2 linked regions of the Homo sapiens genome follow. The protein of the gene in region 2 purifies or fractionates together with the protein of the main gene of each other region. This does not show direct contact. Each region holds a gene or a part of one and is shown on either strand. Other genes may lie near its edges.

The links.
Region 1: the proteins of DNPEP (region 2) and SCAF8 purify together in Homo sapiens (affinity purification with mass spectrometry; 2 studies listed by BioGRID and IntAct, with this or other methods). This does not show direct contact.

What each region holds. Positions count from the first base shown.
Region 1 is NC_000006.12:154,804,665-154,816,315, reverse strand, and holds part of SCAF8 (SR-related and CTD-associated factor 8), read right to left. Parts: intron 10,948-11,651; coding exon 10,830-10,947; intron 8,247-10,829; coding exon 8,115-8,246; intron 7,631-8,114; coding exon 7,518-7,630; intron 6,302-7,517; coding exon 6,108-6,301; intron 601-6,107; coding exon 500-600; intron 1-499. UniProt on the Homo sapiens protein: Anti-terminator protein required to prevent early mRNA termination during transcription. Together with SCAF4, acts by suppressing the use of early, alternative poly(A) sites, thereby preventing the accumulation of non-functional truncated proteins.
Region 2 is NC_000002.12:219,375,383-219,385,623, forward strand, and holds part of DNPEP (aspartyl aminopeptidase), read right to left. Parts: intron 10,150-10,241; coding exon 10,042-10,149; intron 9,062-10,041; coding exon 8,984-9,061; intron 7,833-8,983; coding exon 7,749-7,832; intron 6,758-7,748; coding exon 6,597-6,757; intron 6,203-6,596; coding exon 6,163-6,202; intron 6,055-6,162; coding exon 5,953-6,054; intron 1-5,952.

The sequences.
Region 1 (11,651 bases), on a different chromosome or scaffold from region 2:
TACCTAACATTTGCTCTGTTTGATAAAAAAGAGAGTAAAAGAGCACGAGAGGGTGAGAGAGTGAGAAGAAAAAGGCAAAAGAAACTGGGATCCTAAGTCCAGCTGTGTCTCCACGACTGCTTCTGTGGTCATGTGCAAGTGACTACAATTCTGTGGAACTCTCCATTTCCTCAGAGACAGTTTTTTAAAAAAAGGAATTAAACCAGACCACACATAGGGTTCCTGCTAACTCAAACATTTGATGATGTCAGGAATCAAGCATGGTACACTGCTATAAAACTCAAGAACATTTTGTTAGAATTCCACTAAAAAATAAAAATAATTAAGGAGAGAAACAGCACCAAAATAAACACAGACATTATCAAAGTAAAGCAATCCTTTTAAAGATGTGTATTATTTAAGGCAGACATTACTGGGCTAATTAGGAACAGAAGTGATTCTTTGTATTAATAAAAACCTCCTTTTTTAAAACCTTAAATTATTAAGAACTGATACTTGCATTAATGGATTCAATCTGTCCAAACTCTTCAAACAGGTTGGTTAAGTCTTGCTGTGTTGCCTTCTTGTCCACTTGCCCAACCCAGAGAGTAGTACTACATACTGTCAAGACACAAGAGACAAATGACCTAAATCATTTAGACATAGTTACTTCTTTGAAAAGTAATTGAGGAAAAAGCAGTAATACACATAATAATTAAATTTAAGATAATATATTTAAAAATAATTGTCAATGAACACTTGCATCTGTTATGTTTAAAAACAACTAAAATCACAAGTATTAATTCACATCTCTGCCAAGTCAACCACTTACATGTCACCTGTTTTCAAGCTTGGCTGCACACCTGAACCATCTGTGGATGCCAGGGTCCCATTCTAAGAGGATGAGTGGCATGCAGTGTCAAAGACAGGAACTGAGAGTTGTAAAATTCCCTAGGTGATTCTAATGTGCAACAAAGTTTCAAACCCACTTCTCACCGTAATCCCATTTGTGAACCTTTTATTTATTTATTTATTTTTTTGAGACGGAGTCTCACTCTGTCGCCCAGGCTGGAGTGCAGTGGCACAATCTCGGCTCACTGCAAGCTCCGCCTCCCAGGTTCATGCCATTCTCCTGCCTCAGTCTCCCGAGTAGCTAGGACTACAGGCGCCCGCCACCACACCCGGCTAATTTTTTGTATTTTTAGTAGAGACGGGGTTTCACCATGTTAGCCAGGATGGTCTCGATCTCCTGACCTCATGATCTGTCCGCCTCGGCCTCCCAAAGCGCTGGGATAACAGGCGTGAGCCACCGCACCCGGCCTGTGAACCTTTTAAGCGTCTTTCTGTACTGGAAGGATTAAGTGAATGTGTCTCCCTAATCAAGAGATAAATCTAAAAACAGCATCTTATCCTTAAGGAAACAATCCTTTCTGGGAAGATACAAAGGGAAAATGGCCAAATCAGAACCCCTTAACCCCTTGAAAGACTTAAAGATACTTAACTGTTGAAAGCCACATCCCCTTAACAAATATTAAACATGAGACACCTTGCCTACTTTCAGCTGTACAGTTCATGCCTCCACGAATGCCTCCTTTTACAGAAGACATTTATTTAAAAAATATTTATAGCTGACACCTTTGCAGAATTTTCATATGTTATATTTGGATTTATGTCAATGTCCACATTTCTGGCTACCTTTGATCTATAATAAGACAGGTTTCAGGCAGGTTTTACTCTATGGCTAATTTAGCCCCACATGAAGGTACCCTTGGCAAGATCACTACTGAGTGCCCTAGGCTTTTCAACCAGGTCTCTCCACTCTGGCTAGTCAGAACTCTAACATCTTCTAGACCTGTGTAAGCTTTAGGAATCACTTAGCTAACACAGAGTCCCTGGTCATTGTTCTTTCCCTGCAAGCTGTTTATCTCCTGTAAGTCTTACCCTATGCATATTCAATTTAATCTTCAACCAAAGTCTCAAGGAGCTCTGCATTAGGTTTGTTTTTCGTTTGTTTGTTTCTGAGACAGGTCTCACTCTGTTGCCCAGGCTGGAGTGCAGTGATGCGATCTCAGCTCTCTGCAACTTTCACCTCCCGGGCTCAAGTGATCCTCAGCCTCGCGAGTAACTGGGACTACAGGTGTGCGTCATCATGCTCAGCTAATTTTTGTTGTATCTTTAGCAGAGATGTGGTTTCACCACGTTGCCCAGGCTGGTCTCAAACTCCTGGTCTCAAGTAATTTCAAAGTGCTGGAATTACAGAGGCAAGCCACCATGCCTAGCCTTGTAACAGTTTTTTATTGCTGCTATAACAAAATAACATGAAGTTAGAATAAAACAAATATATTCTCTTATAGTTCTGAAGATCTACTATGGGTCAGCAGGTACGCATTCCCTCTAGAGGGCTCTAGGGGAGAATCTGTTTCCTTACCTTTGCTAGGTTCTACAAGCTGCCTGCCTTCCTTGGCTCATGGTCCCGTCCTTCGTCTTCAAAACCACCTCCACATTTCCCAAATTCTCTCTCCTTTCATTATCACATCACCTTTTCTCTTCAACGTACTTGCTTCCCTCTTATGTACCCGTGTAATTAAACTGGGCCTTCTGGATAATCCAGGTTCATCTCCCCACCTCATGATCTTTAATTTAAAAGGGCCTGAAAAGTCCCTTTTGCCATACAATGTAACATATTTAAAAATCCCAATGATTTAAATGTAGATACCTTTTAGGGGGCCATTATCCAATCTACCACAAAACCTTAACAGAAGTCTGGGGCTCTGTCATGGAAAAGATCCCCCCGCCCCTTTATTTTTGGAGACGAGGTCTTGCTCTGTCACCCAGGCTGAGGCTAGAGTGCAATGTCCTAATTATAGCTCACTGCAGCCTCCTACTCCCTGGATTTAAGGCCTCCTCCTGTCTCAGCCTCCACAAAAGCTGAAACTATAGGCACACCATCACCATGCTTGGCTAAGTTTTTATTTTTAGTACAGACATGGTTTTGCTCTTCCCAGGCTGGTCTCAAATTCCTGGCCTCAAGCAATCCTCCCGCCTTGGCCTTCCAAAGTACTGGGATTATAGGTTTGAGCCAGTATACTCAGCCTTAAGGATTCTTCTGTTTTTTGTTTTGTTTTGTTTTGATATAGGGTCTTGCTCTGTTCCTCAGGTTGGAGTGCAGTGGCACAATCATATCCCACTGCAGCTTCTCAACCTCCTAGGCACAAGTGATTCTCCCACCTCTTTCTTGAGTAGCTGGGACTACAGAAGTGTGAACCACCTTGCCGAACTAATTTTTTTTTTTTTTTTGGCGGTAGTGATGGCATCTCACTTTGTTGCTCAGGCTGGTCTTAAACTCCTGGCCTCAAACAATCTGCTGGCCTGTGCCTCCCAAAGTAGCTTGGATTACAGGTGTGAGCCGCTGCACCTGGCATTCTCTTTTTCCTCTTTATTACTGGTTCTGCATATTCCAGCTGCCTTAATCTCCCTGAACTCTGTTCTGTATTTCCCATCTCTTTCAATATTATCTCTCTACACATTTTTCCCATAGGAAACTCCATTATTTTCCCCAGAAAGCATTAATGATTCTTGTCATCCCATGCAGAAGGGACACTTGATTCCTGGAATGTTATTATTCACTGGTGCTTTATATCCCCTAGACTATTCACGAAAACCTTATGTTCTAAAATCCATGCTAAAGACCAATAAATCGTATGAAAACACTACCATATGTTTAAAATGTGTTAAGAAAGAATACAAACCACAGGAAATTGATACTGCTTTTGAATAAGGAGAGTTGTGAGGTAAACAATCAGAGATTATTTTTCACTGTATAGGCATACCTTGGAGCTACTGCAACTTTGGTTCCAGACCACCACAATAAAGCAGATATCACAGTAAGGTTAAGGCACATAAGTTGTTCTTCCCAGTGCACACAAAAGATATGTTTACACTACACTGTAACCTATTAAGTGTGCAACAGCATTATGTCTAAAAACAAAAATGTACATACCCTAATTTTAAAATACTTTTTGCAAAAAAAAAAAAAAAAAAAAAGCTGACATAGAGACAAAGTAGGCACCTGCTATTGGAAAAATAGTGCCAAGAGAGGTACTCAACATAGGGTGGTCACAACCCTTCAACCTATTTAAAAAAAAAAAAAAAAAAAAAAAGGCAGTATCTTCAAAGCACAATGGAGTGAAGTGCAATAAAACAAGGTATGCCTGTATTTGGTTATGCGTTTTTTATTCACGTGCTTTTTATTTTCTTTTTTGCTGTTTGTTGTGCCCATGAAAATAAAACAGAAATAAAAAATAAATTCCACAGTTAAAAACTATGTAAACAGCACACGTATTTACTGCGGCACTACTCACAGTAGCAAAGATTTGGAACCAATCCAAATGTCCATCAATGATAGACTGGATTAAGAAAATGTGGCACATATACACTATGGAATACTATGCAGCCATAAAAAAGGATGAGTTCATGTCCTTTGCAGGGACATGAATGAAGCTGGAAACTACCATTCTCAGCAAACTATCACAAGGACAGAAAACCAAACACTACATGTTCTCACTCATAGGTGAGAATTGAACAATGAGAACACTTGGACACAGGGCGGGGAGCATCACACACTGGGGTCTGTCAGGGGGATGGGGGGTTGGGGGAAGGGTAGCATTAGGAGAAATACCTAATGTAAACGACAAGTTGATGTGTGCAGCAAACCAACATAGTACATGTATACCTATGTAACAGACCTGCACTTTGTACACAAGTACCCTAGAACTTAAAGTATAATTTAAAAAAAAGAAAAAACTTAGATGACGGGTTGATGGGTGCAGCAAACCACCATGGCACCTGTGTACCTATGTAACAAACCTGCACGTTCAGCACATGTATCCCAGAACTTAAAGGAAAATGAAATAGAAAATTAAATGGTTAAAAAAAAAAAAACTGTGTAAACAGTGAAATCAACAACATGACAAATTAAGTGAGAAATTAAATGAGAGCGACTCCATATAAAATCCTTACTCTAATAATGGCAAATAAATAGATAATTCTGAACGTCTTAATGGTAATCATGCGAGAAAGCACAGTAGAGATTTTTGTGGTTAAACGTTTGACATTATTTCTTTTATCAGCCAGCACTAAAATGTTTAGATGTATACCATCACCCTAAGGGACAAACAAACTTCTAGAGCAAGGATAATCAATATTATCAGGTTGACACTAGCTCTCACAACCAGGTAAAATTCATGCAAGATAGCCAAGGCCTACAAGAACTCCCAAAACTTAGTAAGAAGATGGCTATTGCCTTTTATTATAGGCCTGGGTTTCCAAGACGCTCTAGTAGCACAAATTATACCAATTATTTTTCTAACTCCCTGGCAGAGGGAATTTACGTGGAAGTCTTCAGAAATTAGATAACACAATCAATGTTTAGCTCTTTGGAAAGAATGACAATTTGTTCGATTTTATGTACTTCTTTGCCCATATGTAAACTCTTAGTTCATCTTAAAAGTCATAACCCACCAAGAATACCCTAGGCAAAATTTGGCACTAATTAAAACTTATTTTGCTGTGCTTAACATTCCTACCAAGTGAACCCTCCCCACACCTGCTCCAAAACCAAACCCCACCACTACCGAATCTGTTCTAATCATACGTAATTGACTAACATGTAACCGTGCAAGGTTTGTACAGTAGGAATTATCCTGTAGTGCTAACCCATTAACATTATAATTACTTTAAAAATTAGATATAGCTAAGTATATGCTTCCTTTAATAATTATTCCTACAGACCTGGTGGCCATAATTGCTAAGAATACTATAGACAGAAGTCACTGTGTCCATGCTACAGATACCAGCCTAGTCTGCTTTTTCAGTCAATATGTATTTTCTAACTTGCATTTGAAAAACAAACAAAAAATCAACCCTCAATGACCTTGGTATTTGAATGGAATCTGTTCTTCCTTCTTCTTCTCTTCTCTATCATGTTACAAAAACCAGAGACATTACTCATTTACCAAACCACTTTTAACCTTAATCTGAAAATAAAATTTGGCTGAGAGACTTTGTAGCAGATAACTATTTTTTAAATATTAATTGAAACCAAAGCGTTGCAGATATATGTTACTTACCACTTAGTGTTTTAGATCTAATTGGAGGTAATCCCTTTTTCTGTCGTTCTTTCTCCCTTTCTCTGGCTCTCCTTTCACTTGAATACGACCGTGATGATTTCCTCTTTCTTTCTCTTGAGCGGGAGCGTGATCGCTTTCTGTGTTTACGCTTTCTAGAGCCAGACCGTGACCTAGACCTTCGTTTTCTTGGTGATCTACAAAAAATTTTCATTTTACTTCTAATGACAATGTTTTCTTTCTACCAAATCTGTCACTTCTAAGTGAGGGAAAAAACAATAACAAAAAAGTTGTCTTATATTTAGTGACAATATGTTAAAATATTCTGAAGTAAAATCAAGTCTCAAAAATGCATTTTACTTAAATCCGTGTGCTGCTTAGGTCCATATTAGTTGGCAATGATTCTGAGTATGGGTGACTATTCACAATGAAGAGGAAAAAGATTCTAGAAAGGGCCTCACTTTCTCTTAGTGCATTCCAACTCATTTTTCAAACAGAAGAACAGGAATGAAAGACCAAAGAAAATTAAAAGACCATTTAAGTGTCAGAGCATTAGGCCACTACATAATTCTGCTTAGTAGTTTCCAACTTATAAAATTTTATGGTGCTTGTAGAAGGTGACACTGAAACACTTTCTTTTTTGCCTGTCAACCACATGCCATTGAGCTCTCTTCAAAATGCTTAGTAAGATGCTGCTAATGACAAATGAAGATATCTTCAGCATTAAGATTGTTAATGCTTCAGGAAAATAATTCAGTGATACGCGGTGGGTTTAGAGAAAGTTGAACTGACAGGCTCTCATTTGCAATAGATAAATATAAAGAACTTTGTGACAAGAAAAAGAAATGACTGAAAAACTCATCAAACGTACTGCCCCTCTTACACCATTTACTGTTCAGATTTTCAGGGGCATTCATACGCAAAAAATAGGATACAAAAATGTTAAAGACTGATGTCTTTAAGTTAAGCTCATAAAGAAAACTGTTTCCTAACGGTTTGGTATTACAGTTAATGTTTATAAAAATAAATTTTGTAGTTTCATTTTTATAACCATTTTTGGTATCACTGTGAGATGAGTGGAATCCAGGAAATATGGCCTGACTTAACTGTTGTTCAGGGGCAACAATATTCTAAATTGGGTGTCATCATAATATTAACTAAAATAAAATATAATTCAAAATCCCTGTCTCATGATATGGCTGCCAATCTTATGTAAATTACTGAAATAAATAGCCACAGATATACCAATTAAAACAGAACAAAGGTTATCTTGTTTTTGGAATAACTTTTTTTCCGAGAGACTGAGAAAAAATATGTCATCCCAAGGAAACATTTCCTTTCATCCTGATGCAAAGAAATAAAGCCAACATTTTAAAGTTCACACACGGCTATTATTAAATATCATTGTAGAACCTTGAACGAGATCGTGAATGTGTTCTTGATCTTGAGCGAACCGCCACTTTCTTAGCTTCTTGTTCAAAGACCTCCTCTTCCACTCCATCTTGCCCTTCATCTATATCCATATCCTTGAAAGTCAAAAGAACAGCAAACAAACAGAAAGGCTGGTTGAGACAGAGTTATACATTGACAATTCTGTTTTTAAAAATATTGACGATGGGAGCATTAATGCCTAATACAGGGGTGTCCAATCTTTTGGCTTCCCTGGGCCCCATTAGAAGAAGTAATGTCTTTGGCCACACGTAAAATATACTAACACTAATGACAGCTGATAAGCTTAAAAAAAAAAAAAAATCGCAAAAACAAATCTCATATTGTTTTAAGAAAGTTTACAAATTTGTGTTGGGCTGCATTCAAAGCAGTTCTGGGCCATGTGCTTGGCCTAGGGGCCATGCTTAGGCCTTGGACAAGCTTGGCCTAATAGGTGAAACAATTACAAAGTGGAGCTTAAGTGTGGGAAAAATATATTCAGGGCACTGCTAGTATAAAATATTTTATGATTTCTTTAGCTACTTTTAGAAATTTATGACCCAGAAAAACATTTACTTTTACCTGTTGCTGAATATCTATGGAATCATCCAAATTGACTTCAGGTTCAAGAAAATGCTGCTGACTACTCCCTTGTGATGGTGACGCTGAATGCTCTGACCCAAAGGTTCCTTCCTGACTATCCTGAGGAGTGGCCTATTGAGAACATATACAAACACACAAAGATTGGGAGATACTTTTTGTTATGAATGAAAATGTAAACACAGCAAACATCACAATTACATGTTTAAAAACATGAGCCATACATAAAAGAAATTCCATGTTAAATCATTTATAAAGTAATCAATCCAAAATTAAACATTTGTATAAACTCATTTTTATATAAAAGCAGAGAACAGCTCCATAAAAGGAAGGGACTAAAATATTAAAATGGTAAAATCAAGTAAATTTTCAATTGTGAAAATATAAACTACAGAGGACTAATAAATAAATTATAGCATGAAAAATACATAATGGCAGTCAGTTAAATGAATCTAGATTTTCACTGATAATTGGCATTAATAAAAAATGCTACAAAGAAAAAACAGGCCAGGCACAGTGGCTCACGCCAGTAATCCCAGTACTTTGGGAGGCTGAGGCGGGTGGATCACGAGGTGAGAAGTTCAAGACCAGCCTGGCCAAGATGGTGAAACCCGTCTCTACTGAAAATACAGAAAAATTAGCAGGGCACGGTGGCGGATGCCTGTAATCCCAGCTACTCAGGAGGCTGAGGCAGAGAACTGCTTGAACCTGAGAGGCGGAGGTAGCAGTGAGCCGAGATCTGCATTCTAAATCTCTCATAGGTTTTATACTATCTACCTTATAAAAACAGTTCTAGTTTTACCACTCTCTTTTCTTCATTAGATTCATTTTTGAACAATGAGGTTTTTCAGAACTTCTATTCCTTTCAAAGGGATCTTATTATTCTAAGCTGTGAAATTTTGGAACTGATATATAGAGTAATTAACTAAGCCCAGAGTTCTCTCTTTTTGGTAGGTGAGATTCTTACAACAGACTCGCTCTCTCTCAAGTTTATTTTTACTTCAATAACATGGTGCTAATTACAAGCTTGTTAAGACTACTTGATTCTGCTAAGAGAGAGACCATTAAAAACATAAAGTACTACGATTACAGTGCTTCTGCTAAACCTTCTAAAATGAAACTATGACTAAAGCAATTCACAAAGTGTTACATTTATAGCTCAACAAATCTGTTGTTTGGATAAATTCTTCCATCACGACTACCTCCTGCCTCTCTTAGCAGTTCTGTGATTTTTGTATTATTACATCACTGACGAGCTGTTTGTTTTGAGTTACAACTTTGTTTTTTCTTTAAACAACATCTAAATGTTCTTAATTGTGTTCTATCTTCAACTTCTGGGTTCTCAGGCAGATACATTTGCTTGACATAAAATACTGCCCCTACTCTGGCCACTTATATCAGAATTGTTTCTTCAAAAAAAAGGTATGAAATTCCATTCTCATAATTCTAGGCATGAGTTCCAATGCAGCAAATATCATTAACATCCATTTTATATTACTGTTTGCATTAAAAAGTCAAGTTCAGACCCCAATGTCTCAAGTTTGCTATCTCTTCCATCTAAAATAACTGTTCCCCCCTCCATGCTCCTAGAATCCTTCAGCTGTACCTCTATGACAAAAATAAAGAATTCTGCCAGGTGTTCATACAGATGTACGTGCTCCATTAGAGAAGAGGTTACCTGATGCCACAACCTCATTTCTGTTCATCTCTGTATGTAACACTTGCCTAACAAGTAACACATACTCAAAAATATTTTGTGATATTTTTGTTAAACTCATTAATGCCAAAACTTTTTTAATATTAGGATGTATGCTGGGGAGGGAAAGGGGGTTTCCTAATACTTTTATTCTGAACAGTTTACATGCGTAACCATTTCTCACATACAGCAGAAAAAGGCTTTGAAATAAATTTAATCCTAGCTCTACAACTTAACATATTTTATCAGTTCTAAGGTGCAATATTTTGTCAAAGATTATCAAATTCGTAAGATGAACTTAAAGGATCCTTACAACTCAAAAGGATGTTACATTTAGTTATCGATGTTTTAAAATTCTTAGCTATGCATAAAATAACCGCACATCTTGAGTCAGATAATATATAACACTAGCTGTACACTGCTGCATGAGATGTTTAATCTCACCAAGCTTCCACTTCCTCTGGGATAAAATGGGAGTCATAATGCCCATCGCCTGAGGGTTAAATGTATACAAGCCTACCACATACCTAATAAAGCTCCTGCTACATGCTAACAGCAAATACGTTTTAAAAATTAAAGATAGCAATCTACATGGCCATCATCATTGTCACCATTAACATAATCATCAACTTGCTTGATAGGGAACAGAGAGAAAAACACGTTTAGTTTTAAGTGGTAATTCTGAAACCCCCTCCATCCTGTTCTCTACTTCCAGTACACTGAAATTAATTTCTACAATGTGCATTCATAAGTTACCAGAACACAATTTGATTACAGAAAAAACCATAAAGGTCCTGAAAAAAATGGTCTTACTAATAAGAGTTGAAAAAATATCACCATAACAAACTTTAGAAAGAAATAAAGTAGCTGGTAAAAGCTAAATAGTTGAGAAAATATTCTATTAAGACCAATTAAAAAAAAAAAAAGCCAACCCACAAAAATGCCAATTTATAGAATATAAATAGTAATAACTCTAAAGACCACAAGATGGGGTTATAAACCTTTTGAGGCTGTTGCTGCTCCAAGAGCTGCTGTCTGAGATGTTCTAGGTTTTGCTGTTGTAGTTGTTCTGCTATCTGATGAAAAATGGAATTGTTCACAGATTCTGAAACGTGAGAACTAAAAGGAAAAACAGGTGGAAACATATTTTAAAACCCACTAAAGATACTATGAAAATAACTGAGTATTCAAAGAAAACAAAAAAGTCAATTCAATAAAACATATTCTACTGCATGTTTTCTTTTGCAATTTTAATACTTAAAGTAGAATACTTGAGAACATTAATTATTAAAAGAAAAATACATTCTTCAATTGTACATCAATAGATGGATAACGTGTCAGAGATGCTCTGCTGAAGATCTGATATTACCATCTCAGGCTGTTAAATACATATAAATTACTGCTTTTTCATTAGAGCATATTAAGAAAATCTCAATATTTATAAAAAGTTTAAACATTTAAACATTGTTACTTTAACTCCTTCTCTTACTATGAGATAGAAAAACAGTCTATCAATCAGTATGTGTGAAATCTACCATTGTAATTGACCATAAAATTTATAAAACTAATATTCTTCCTTTAGAAAATCATATACATTATTAGGTATGTTAACAGAGACAGATACTGTTTAAATAAGAAAAAATAATAGTTTAACTATATTCTTGGAAATTCACACCTGGAATACACCTGGGATTCTGGGTGCCACAAGGTAAGACATTAACAATAAAAAGGGCATCCCAAAAGAGCCAAACAGGATGGTGAGAAGTCTTGAAACAGTTGGAAAAAAGTGTACTTCATCTGAAGCAAATAAACCTAAGGGGAAG
Region 2 (10,241 bases):
TATATTATGGTAAAAAAATAAGAAAATGAAAATATGATGCTAGATATCAAGGTTTTCAGTGTAAGAGAAAACAGAATTACAAAATCAAATAGGTAGTAACTATTTAACTAAATAAGAATAATTTTATGAATAAGAATTACAGTATTAACTCATGATTTTTATTTAAAAATTTTTATTTTATTTTATTTATTTATTTTGAGATGGAGTCTCCCTGCGATGCCCAGGCTGGAGTGCAGTGGCGCAATCTCAGCTCGCTGCAACCTCTGCCTCCTGGGTTCAAGCGATTCTCCTGTCTCAGCCTCCCAAGTAGCTGGGATTACAGGCACGCACCACCACGTTCAGCTAATTATTGTATTTTCAGTAGAGACGAGATTTTGCCATATTGGCCAGGCTGTTCTCGAACTTCTGACTTCAAGTGATCCACTACCTCTCAAAGTGCTGGGATTACAGGCCTGAGCTACCACACCTGGCTTCATGATTTTTAAAATATGTACTTTTTTCTTGCTATGTCCATGGAAATGGACCCAAAGCACCGTCCCCTCCCCCAAGAACAATGAACACTTGCAGTGCCAGGCTATGGTCTCTAATACCACTGCTTGCCAAAAACTACCAAGTCTGGGGGGCGAAATGAACAAGACATGTCTACAATTTTTGTTGTGCCAAAAAGCAAGGAGACTTCCAAGAGTCAAAGGGCACAGGAGTTATGCTGAAGGGGCTCCCACTGGTCAAAGCCATGGCAATTCACAAATCAAATATAATAATTATAGAGGACACTGAATAAATGAAATTCCATGATTCTAAGATAGTCAGAAAGGGAAAAGCAGGCCAGGTGTGCTGGCTCACGCCTGTAATCCCAGCACTTTGGGAGGCCAAGGTGTGCAGATCACATGATTCCAGGAGTTCAAGACCAGCCTGGCCAACATGGTGAAACCCTGTATCTATTAAAAATACAAGAAACAGCCGGGCATGGTGGTGCATGCCTGTAATCCCAGCTACTCAGGTGGCTGAGGTATGAGACTCTCTTGCACCTGTGGGGAGGAGGTTGCAGTGAGCTGAGATTGCGACACTACACTCCAGCCTGGGCAACAGAGCGAGACCCTGTCTAAAAAAAAAAAAAGAAAAAGAAAAAAAAAGGAAAAGGAAAAATCTTTCTTTGTCACTATTTGAGACGACATTTCACCTTGAAAAGTGGATAACAGAAAGAATTAGCATTTATCCTGCTTTCCAATCAATAGGAATGATATTCCATGATAACCAAAGAACCCTAGTTGATTGGAGGGAAGAAGTTCCACTTCACAGAAGAATGGAAGACTGAAAGAATTCAGGGGAAGCGGGCATTTTTCGGTAAATTCTAATGAAATTACTGATTTAGACAAGGATTATTGTAAGTGTTAAAACCATTAGGTATCTGGTTAATAGGGAACTCATCACTTGTATGGGTCACTGTCAGGTCAATAGGGGAAAAGCACTATATAATGAAAGGATAAGAGGCCATTCCTGGTCCAGTGGTCAATCTTTGCAAGGCTAAGGGTGGCCCACCCAGATATCATGTGTGTGATGCCATATGAATACACCAGCCATGTCTTCTAGCCCAAAATGTTTAACTTGAGGCTAGGCACGGTGGCTCACACCTGTAATCCCAGCACTTTGGGAGGCTGAGGTGGGCGGACCACTTGAGGTCAGGAGTTCAAGACCAGTCTGGCCAATATGGTGAAACCCTGTCTCTACTAAAAATACAAAAATTAGCTGGGCATCGTGGTGCACACTTGTAATCCCAGCTACTTTGGAGGCTGAGACAGAAGGATCACTTGAACCAGGGAGGCGGAGGTTGCAATGAGCCGAGATCACGCCATTAGACTCCAGCCTGGGCGACAGAGTGAAACTCTCACTCTGTCAAAAAAAAAAAAAAAAAAAAAAAAAAAAGTTTAACTTGAATCCATCAAGTCTTTAGAAATTCCAGTTGATAGGAAATACGGGGCTTACAGACAAGCTAAATGACACCATGGGGCAGCAAGGAGACATATCCAGAAGTTTCTTGAATAAGCCAATGCTATTTAAAAAGGGGTGGGGGGAACTGTGCTACACTGGAAGACATTTAAGCAACATATCAGCCAAATATAACGCATTGTCCTGAGTTGGATACTAGGGTGGGCCAAATACCTGTAAAAAAAATATTTTGAGGATAACTGGGGAAAACGGAAAGTGATCTGTGCATTAGATGAGGTACAAGTTTACTGAAACAACAATTTCCTGAAATGGGGTTGGGAATGGTGGCTCATGCCTGTAATCCTAGCACTTTGGGAGGCCAAGGTGGGAGGACTGCTTGAAGCCAGGAGTTCAAGACCAGCCTGGGCAACATAGCAAGAACCCCATTTTTACTAAAAATAGAAAATTAGCCAGCATGGTGGCATGCATCTGTAGTCCCAGCTACTTGGGAGACTGAGGCAGGAAGATCTTCTGAGCTCAGGAGTTTGAGGGTGCAGTGAGCTATGATCATGCCACTGCACTCCAGCCTGGGAGACAAAGCAAGACCCTGTTTCTAATTTTAAAAAAACATTAAAAAAAAAAACCAAACTCAAATAGAAAGGTGAAGATGACTGAGTGAAAAGAGGCAACAAAAATATATCCAATATAATATCATTTTAAAAAAGTGTATATGAAGTTTATGCATAGAAAAAAATCTGGAAGACTATACCAAATTTCTGCAGATTAGTGTTTTATTTTCTCATCTCTATCTGTATTTTCTAATTTTCTAAAATACATGTGTCCTACTTCTGCTGTAAATTATTAAAGAAAAATCTCCCAATGTCTTCTCACTGCCTTAGAATAAAATTGAAATGTCCTTCCATGGCCTAGGTATTCCTGTATCATCACTGAGCTGGGCCTCTCCCCTAACCCTCTCCTGCTCTCATCCTGGCTCTACCATCCTGCCTTTCTCTCCTCCTAAAAGACGAGCTCATTCCTGGCCCCCCTTGGGGCCTTTCTACTTGTGCCCTCTGGCTGGGACCCTCCCATAGCTGCCTATTTCTCAGTGGTTAGGTCTCAGCTCAAATATCACGTCCTCAGAGAAGGCTTCCTGGGGGCAGAACAATTCAGCTTTCCGAAAGGAAGAGTGAACACTGTGCAGCAGAAAGAGCCCTGGGCTGGGAGTCAGGATACCACGGTTCTACACCTGCTATGATTGTCACTGGACCGCCCATGCCTGAGTCCCTGATATAGAGAGGTAGACAGATAAATATAGAAATAGACAGTCATGCACTACATGGTGACATTTCAGTCAAAGATAGACTACATATGACAGTGGTCCCGTAAGATTATAATGGAGCTGAAAAATTCCTGTCGCCTAGTGACATCACAGCTGTTGCGATGTTGTGGCATAATGCATGACTCACTTGTTTGTGGCGATGCCGGCGTAAATAAATCTACTGCCAGTCGTATAAAAGCATAACACGTGCAATTATGTACAGTATGCAATACCTAAGAATAATAAATGACTATGTTATGGTTTATGTGTTTACTATATTATGCTTTTTATTGTTATTTATTTATTTTGAGATGGAGTTTCACTCTTGTCGCCCAGGCTGGAGTGCAATGGCACCATCTTGGCTCCCTGCAACCTCTGCCTCTTGGGTTCAAGCGATTCTCCTGTCTCAGCCTCCTGAGTAGCTGGGATTACAGGCGCACACCACCATGCCCAGATAATTTTTGTATTTTCAGTAGAGACGGGGTTTCACCATGTTGGCCAGCTGGTTTTGAACTCCTGACCTCAAGTGATCCACCCGCCTCGGCCTCCCAAAGTGCTGGGATTACAGGCATGAGCCACGATGCCCAGCCTACTGTTATTTTAGAATGTACTCCTACTTATTAGAAAAAAAAAAAAAAGTTAACTGTAAAACAGCCTCAGGCAGGTCCTTTAGGAGCACATTGTTATCATGGTAGATAGCAGCTCCCTGCATGTCACTCTCCCTGAAGACCTTCCAGTGAGACAAGATGTGGAGGTGGAAGACAGGGACATTGATAATCCTGACCCTGTATAGGCCTAGGCTAATGTGTATGTTTGTGTCTTGGTTTTTAACCAAAAAGTTTAAAAATTTTAAAAATAACGAAAAATTTTAAAAATAGAAAAAAGCTTACAGAATAAGGATACAAAAAAGAAAATACTTTTGAATAGCTGTACTATGTGTTTGTGTTTTAAGCCAACTGTTGTTACAAAGGAGTCAAAAATTTTAAAAATGGAAGGTTATAAAGTAAAAAAGTTGGCCGGGTGCAGTGGCTCACACCTGTAATCCCAACACTTTGGGAGGCCGAGGCGGGCGGATCACAAGGTCAGGAGTTCGAGACCAGCCTGACCAACATGGTGAAACCCCGTCTCTACTAAAAATACAAAAATTAGCCAGGCATGGTGGTGCGTGCCTGTAATCCCAGCTATTCAGGAGGCTGAGGCAGAATCGCTTGAACCTGGGAGGCAGAGGTTGCAGTGAGCCGAGATCGTGCCACTGCACTCCAGCCTGGGTGACAGAGTGAGACTCCATCTCAAAAATAAATAAATAAATAAATAAATAAATAAAGTTAAAAAGTTACAGTAAACTAATTTATTGTTGAAGAAATACAATTTTCAAAATAAATGTAGTGTAGCCTAAGTGTCCGGCATTGATAAAGTCTGCAATAGTGTACAGTAATGTCCTAGGCCTTCACATTAACTCACCACTCACCCAGGGCAACTTCGAGTGCCGTAAGCTCCATTCCTAAGTGCCCTATACAGGTGGACCATTTTAAATCTTTTATACCATATGCTTCCTGTAACTTTTCTTTTTCTTTTCTTTTTTTTTTTTTTTTGGTTTTGTTTTTTTGGAGACAGGGTCTCACTCTGTCGCCCAGGCTGGAGTGCAATGGCACGATCTCGGCTCACTGCAACGTCCACCTCCCGGGCTCAAGAGATCCTTCCCAAGTAGGGAAGGCCTCCCAAGTAGCTGGGACTACAGGCATGCACCACTCCGCCTGCCTAATTTTTGTATTTTTTGGTAGGATGGGGTTTCACCATGTTGGCCAGGCTGGTTTTGAACTCCTGACCTCAAGTGATCTGCCTGTCTTGGCCTCCCAAAATGCTGGGATTACAGGTGTGAGCCAACACGCCTGGCCTTCTGTACCTTTTCTATGTTTAGATACACTGACCATTTTGTTACAGTTACCTACAGTTTTCAGCACAGTAAGAAGCCGTACAGGTTTGTAGCCTAGGAGCAATGGGCTACACCACACAACCTAGGTGTGCAGCAGGCTGTCCGTCTAGGTTTGTGTACATATACTCCATGATGCTCACACAATGACAAAATTGCCTAATGATGCCATTTCCCAGAATGTATCCCTGTTGTTAAGCAATGCATGACAGTATATATGTGTGTATATGTGTATACACAATACTGTCATGTGTTATATACATACATGTATACAACATATATATGTACACACACACACACACACACTGAGGAGAAAGGACTAGATGTCTAATTTCTCAGGCAAGAGAGAAAATGAGTAGTTGGAGTTCCATACTCCCCAGCCCTGAACTTTCCCTGTGGAAGCCCCCAGGGTGTGTAGGAGACACAGGGGAAGTGGGGGTGCTGCAGGGAAAGACAGGCCTACCATGTGCCAGGAGCACACTGTACCTTCAGTCTTCATAGAAATCCAGCAAAGTAGGCATCACTATCACCCCTATTCTACAGATGTGGAAACTGAGACTCAGAAAGGTTAGGAGACTAGTCCAAGGTCACACAGCTAGCACTGCAGCAGAGCCAGCATGGAATCCAGCTGTATCCAAAATCCCTGCTTTTCTCACTCTACTGGGACCCCCCTCCACTCAAGGCCATCTACCAGGTTCCCTGTTCATGGGGGGCCCATCTGTTTGTGCCCCCACCAAGCTCCCTCCATCACACCTTCCCAGGCAGGGCCCACCCTCACCTGCAGGGGGACCTTGACTTTGTTGGCCACCTCTCGGATCAGGGCCTCTGACACCGCGTTTGAAGCATAGCGTTGCTTGCTGTTCACCTTGATCACGGGGCCCTGGGGAGAGTCAAGGTGAGGCAGAGGTAATGACAGGCCCAAAGGGAATGAGTCGGCGCTCGGAACAGCCAGACCTCCAAGTCCCTAGGGAGAAATGGCACGTCTCACCTTGTGGAATAAAGGCCGGTGGTTCTCCTCATGCTTGTCCCTGTAAGAGACAGATAAGGGCCAGACATAGCAAACAGGAGCAGGCCTGTCGACACTCACCACCCTCCCATGGCAGACATCACTAATAGATCACCACTCTTTCCCGCCCAGCCCAGTGGGACTTCAGAGTCATTCCACACACAGGGTTCCGGGCAGCCTCTAGCAATAGATGGAAACAAGTTTGTAGACAAAGGTGTATTCCACACACCTGGGTTAGGCATTGCATGACTTTGACCAAGTTGGTCTCGCAGTAGTGAAAAGGAAGTGCCCGTGAACCTCCCGGCAGAATGAAGAAGGGAGAAAGGAAGAGGCTGGGGCCAAGGCAGAGCCTCAAGGCAGGTTATGCTTGGGTCTCCAGCTATGTGAAGACTGTGTGACTGGCACTAGAGACTCACAGGTAGTTGGGATGCACAGCATGGGCCATGTCTGCGCTGATCATGAAGGACTTGGGTATGGCTTCCTCGAAGGCTGTCGGGTGCTGGCACGAGGCTGAGATCCGCCGCAGCACCAGCTCTGTCAGCAGTGACTGTGCTCCCTGTGCACTCTCAGACCCCACCTGGCGACAGTAGAGTCCTGACTCTGGGAATCTGGGCTTAGGGGCCTGATCTTGGAAGCCAGTGAGAGGGGCCCATTGCCCAACTGGCCCAAAACCCCACTGAGTCACTGGGTGTTCTTAGCAACACCCCTAACCTGGGGTCGTCACTGAACACCAGACAGTGGGCTGAGACCAAACTAACTCACATTCTTAACAGTACTGGTGGGTTTCCTGCACTGCTCCCCTTCCTCCTCTCGTGACCCTCACATCTGGGGCTCAGCACAGGTGCCCCACCACACTGGTCAATTTTCTTTTATGTGTATGACAGAGACTGCTAACTGTCCATGATATCTTTTAGAACACCCAAGTTGTAGCTAAGCACTTAACTACCCAGCTAGAGATGACATTTCCAGGCTCCCCTGCAGCTAAGTTCTGTGGAATGTAAGCAGTGATGAATGTCACTTCTGGATCATGCCCTTAAAGCCAGGGGGTGTCTACTGCCCCTTTGCCCTCTCTTCCCTTCCTACTAACTCAGTGTAGACATGATGGCCAGAGCTGGAACGGCCACCCTGAATCCTGAAATGGAAGTCATGTGTTCAGGACGGCAGGGACCCCTCCTAAACTGCTAACTCTGACCTGGGTTGTTACATGAGAGAGCACTAGCTGTTCAAGCTCTGTTATGCAGCTGAGACTGCAGCCTCACACACGCAGGCATCATGAGGACCTACTCTGTGCTGAGCCCTGGGGCTACGAGGATGGGCTGGGTAGAGTCCCTGTCCTAAAGGAAGAAGCTCACCATGTGGCACAAAGAGAGATACAGGAGAGACGGTCACCCTCGAATAAGCAGATCTATGTTGAGTCAGAGGAGACACCAAGTGCTAAGGAGGCACAGGCAGCATCTCCCCTGTCTTGGGGCCCCCAGAAGAGCCCTGGCTCACGGTGGATGCCTGGCACAACAAGTTGGCTGTGGAAGACTCCGCAGAGGTGACCCTCCCCAGAACCCTCCACGTACCTCTTCGTTGTCATAGAGTGTGACCATGCGCACGTGAGGCTCTGTGGCCAGGGAGCCAGGGCCTGCACAGGAATCTATCAAGGCCTGGTTCAGGGAAGGAAATGAGAGCATCATCTCCAACCTGCTTCTGCTGGAACTCAGCCCACCAGCACCTTGGGTGTGCACGCTCCCCCATCCACCAGCACCTTGGGTGTGCACATTCCCCTGTCTGCCTTCCATGGCCATGACTTTTATCAATTAGGGCACTGCCTGGCAGAGGGTGTGGTGGGGACCTTTTTTTTCTTGCCAAATAAATAGCTACATAGGTAGAAACCTTTAAGGTGTGGTGAGGACCTTTTTTTTCTCTTTTTTTCTTTCTTTCTTTTTTTTTTTGGCCAGATCAATAGCTAGGTAGAAACCTTTTCAACTGGGACAGGAGACACCATCCTTTGGGTGTTGTTCTCTACCTTCCCATGCAAAAGGCAGTAGAAGATGTGGAGGACAGAGAGGAAGAGCTGAGAGTCCTGGAAAGCCAAAAGGCTACACACATCACATAAACTGATTGGCCTCAGGGAAAAGACTGAGGTTCAAAGAGGTGACAGACTCCATCAAGGTGACATGACTGGCTGGTTGCCTGCAGAAGTAGATGCAGGTCCCAGGTCCAGCTCTGGTCTCAATTACAGCCCAAAGCCTATCTCCAGCCACAGGATTACAGGGAAGGAAAGGCAGAAAAAGGCAGAGGGAGATCAAGGGCAAGAGGAGAGAAAGAAAGGGAACTGACTAGGGTGGAGAGAAGGTGGGGAATATCAAGGTGACTAGGAAGAGAGGCTACCTGACTGAGATCCCAAGAAACAGGGAGAAGGCTGGGGTCTTAAGCCTGGGGAGTGGCGTAGGAAGCAGAAGGAGGTGGATGATACTGCCTTGTGGATGATAAAGCCTTTCCCTGAGGCAGAGGTTGTTAACTTCAGGAAAAGCAGCAGGAGCAAGGCTAGGACAAGAGACCATGGTGCCTGAAACAACTTCTCCTCCTTCTTCTTGCCTCAACACCCTGATAGTGCAAGGGCAGAGACCAAAGGTGGCGATGCTGAGGCTGCAACATTTAGGGCCCCCTCCTGGTCCATCCAGCACCAGCAGACTGAGCGGGTAGACAATGGCCCTCTCTCACAACCTGCTGGGGCTTTAGGCAGCTCCCCCGACCCCAAACATACCACCTCTGCTGGTGGTTATGTGCTGCCTGGGGCGCCCCGGCTCCTCACCTGCAGGGCACAGAAGCAGCTGTGCAGATTGTCCAGCCGAGGAGCAAAGATGAACTCATCATAGGCACCACCCAAGACCTAGAGAGGTAAGACAGTCAGCCCGACCTTCAACCCTCCACCCCCACTCACCTTTCTTTTGCTCCCAAGGGTCTCCTTGGTTTCTTGCGCAACCTCTCCCTGACCCCTGGCTTAGGGCACTATTTTGTTTTTTCTTTTTTTTGAGATGAAGGTTCGCTCTTGTCGCCCAGTCTGAAGTGCAATGGCTCGATCTCGGCTCACTGCAACTTCCGCCTCCCGGGTTCAAAGGATTCTCGTGCCTCAGCCTCCTGAGTAGCTGGGATTACAGGCATGCACCACCAGGCCCAGCTAATTTTTGTATTTTTATTAGAGACAGGGTTTCACCATGGTGGTCAGGCTAGTCTCGAACTCCTGACCTCATGTGATTCCCCCCGCCTCAGCCTCCCAAAGTGCTGGGATTCCTTGCTAGGCAGGACCAAGCAGAGATTGGAGAAGGGGGCTGGGTTGGTGCTGAGGAACAAAAGGGTGGAGGCCAATAGCTCTTGACCTCTTCCTGTGGGTCAAGAAAAGGAAGGGCTGAATTGTCATCAAAAAGGCCAAAGAAGTAAACAGAGGAAACCAGCCAAAAAACAGAAACTTAGTACGTGTTCAAGCAGGACACAGCATCCAAAGATTTAGCAATCTCTGACCATCAGCAACCGGGAGACAGAGAACAGATGGCCACATCCAGGCCTCTTTCCCTAAGCAGTTCAGTGTCAGTGTGGGTCAAAGCAGACAGGGCCCACCTGTAGAAGAAACTCTTTGGGAATCTGTAAAAAGGGCCAATTCCCAGATAGTCCTAGTGGGCAGGTCTGGGGTAGGGAACTTGTCTTTTTGAGAACCACCGCCCTAGAAGCAGTGGGGGATGTGTCTACTGGGAAAAACGGGGATGAGAGTTACTGAGGGCTTGGTGGAGGTGATGGGTGCTTCAGCAGGACGGGCTAGGGGTGGCCAGGATCCTGGAGGCCCTTCACCCACAGGTTCCTACAGCCAGTCCTCACCGCAGGCTGGGTGTCTGCAAGGCAGAGCTCCATCTCCACTATGTCCTTGGGGCTCAGCCCCAGATGGGCACAGAGCAGGGACATGAGGACCGAATGGTGCCGCTCATCCTGAAGAGCAGAAAGATGCTGGGAAGAGTCCATTCCTCCTCTCCTCCCCACTTCTCAGGGGACTCTGCCGCCCTCCCCATGATCAGGAGACT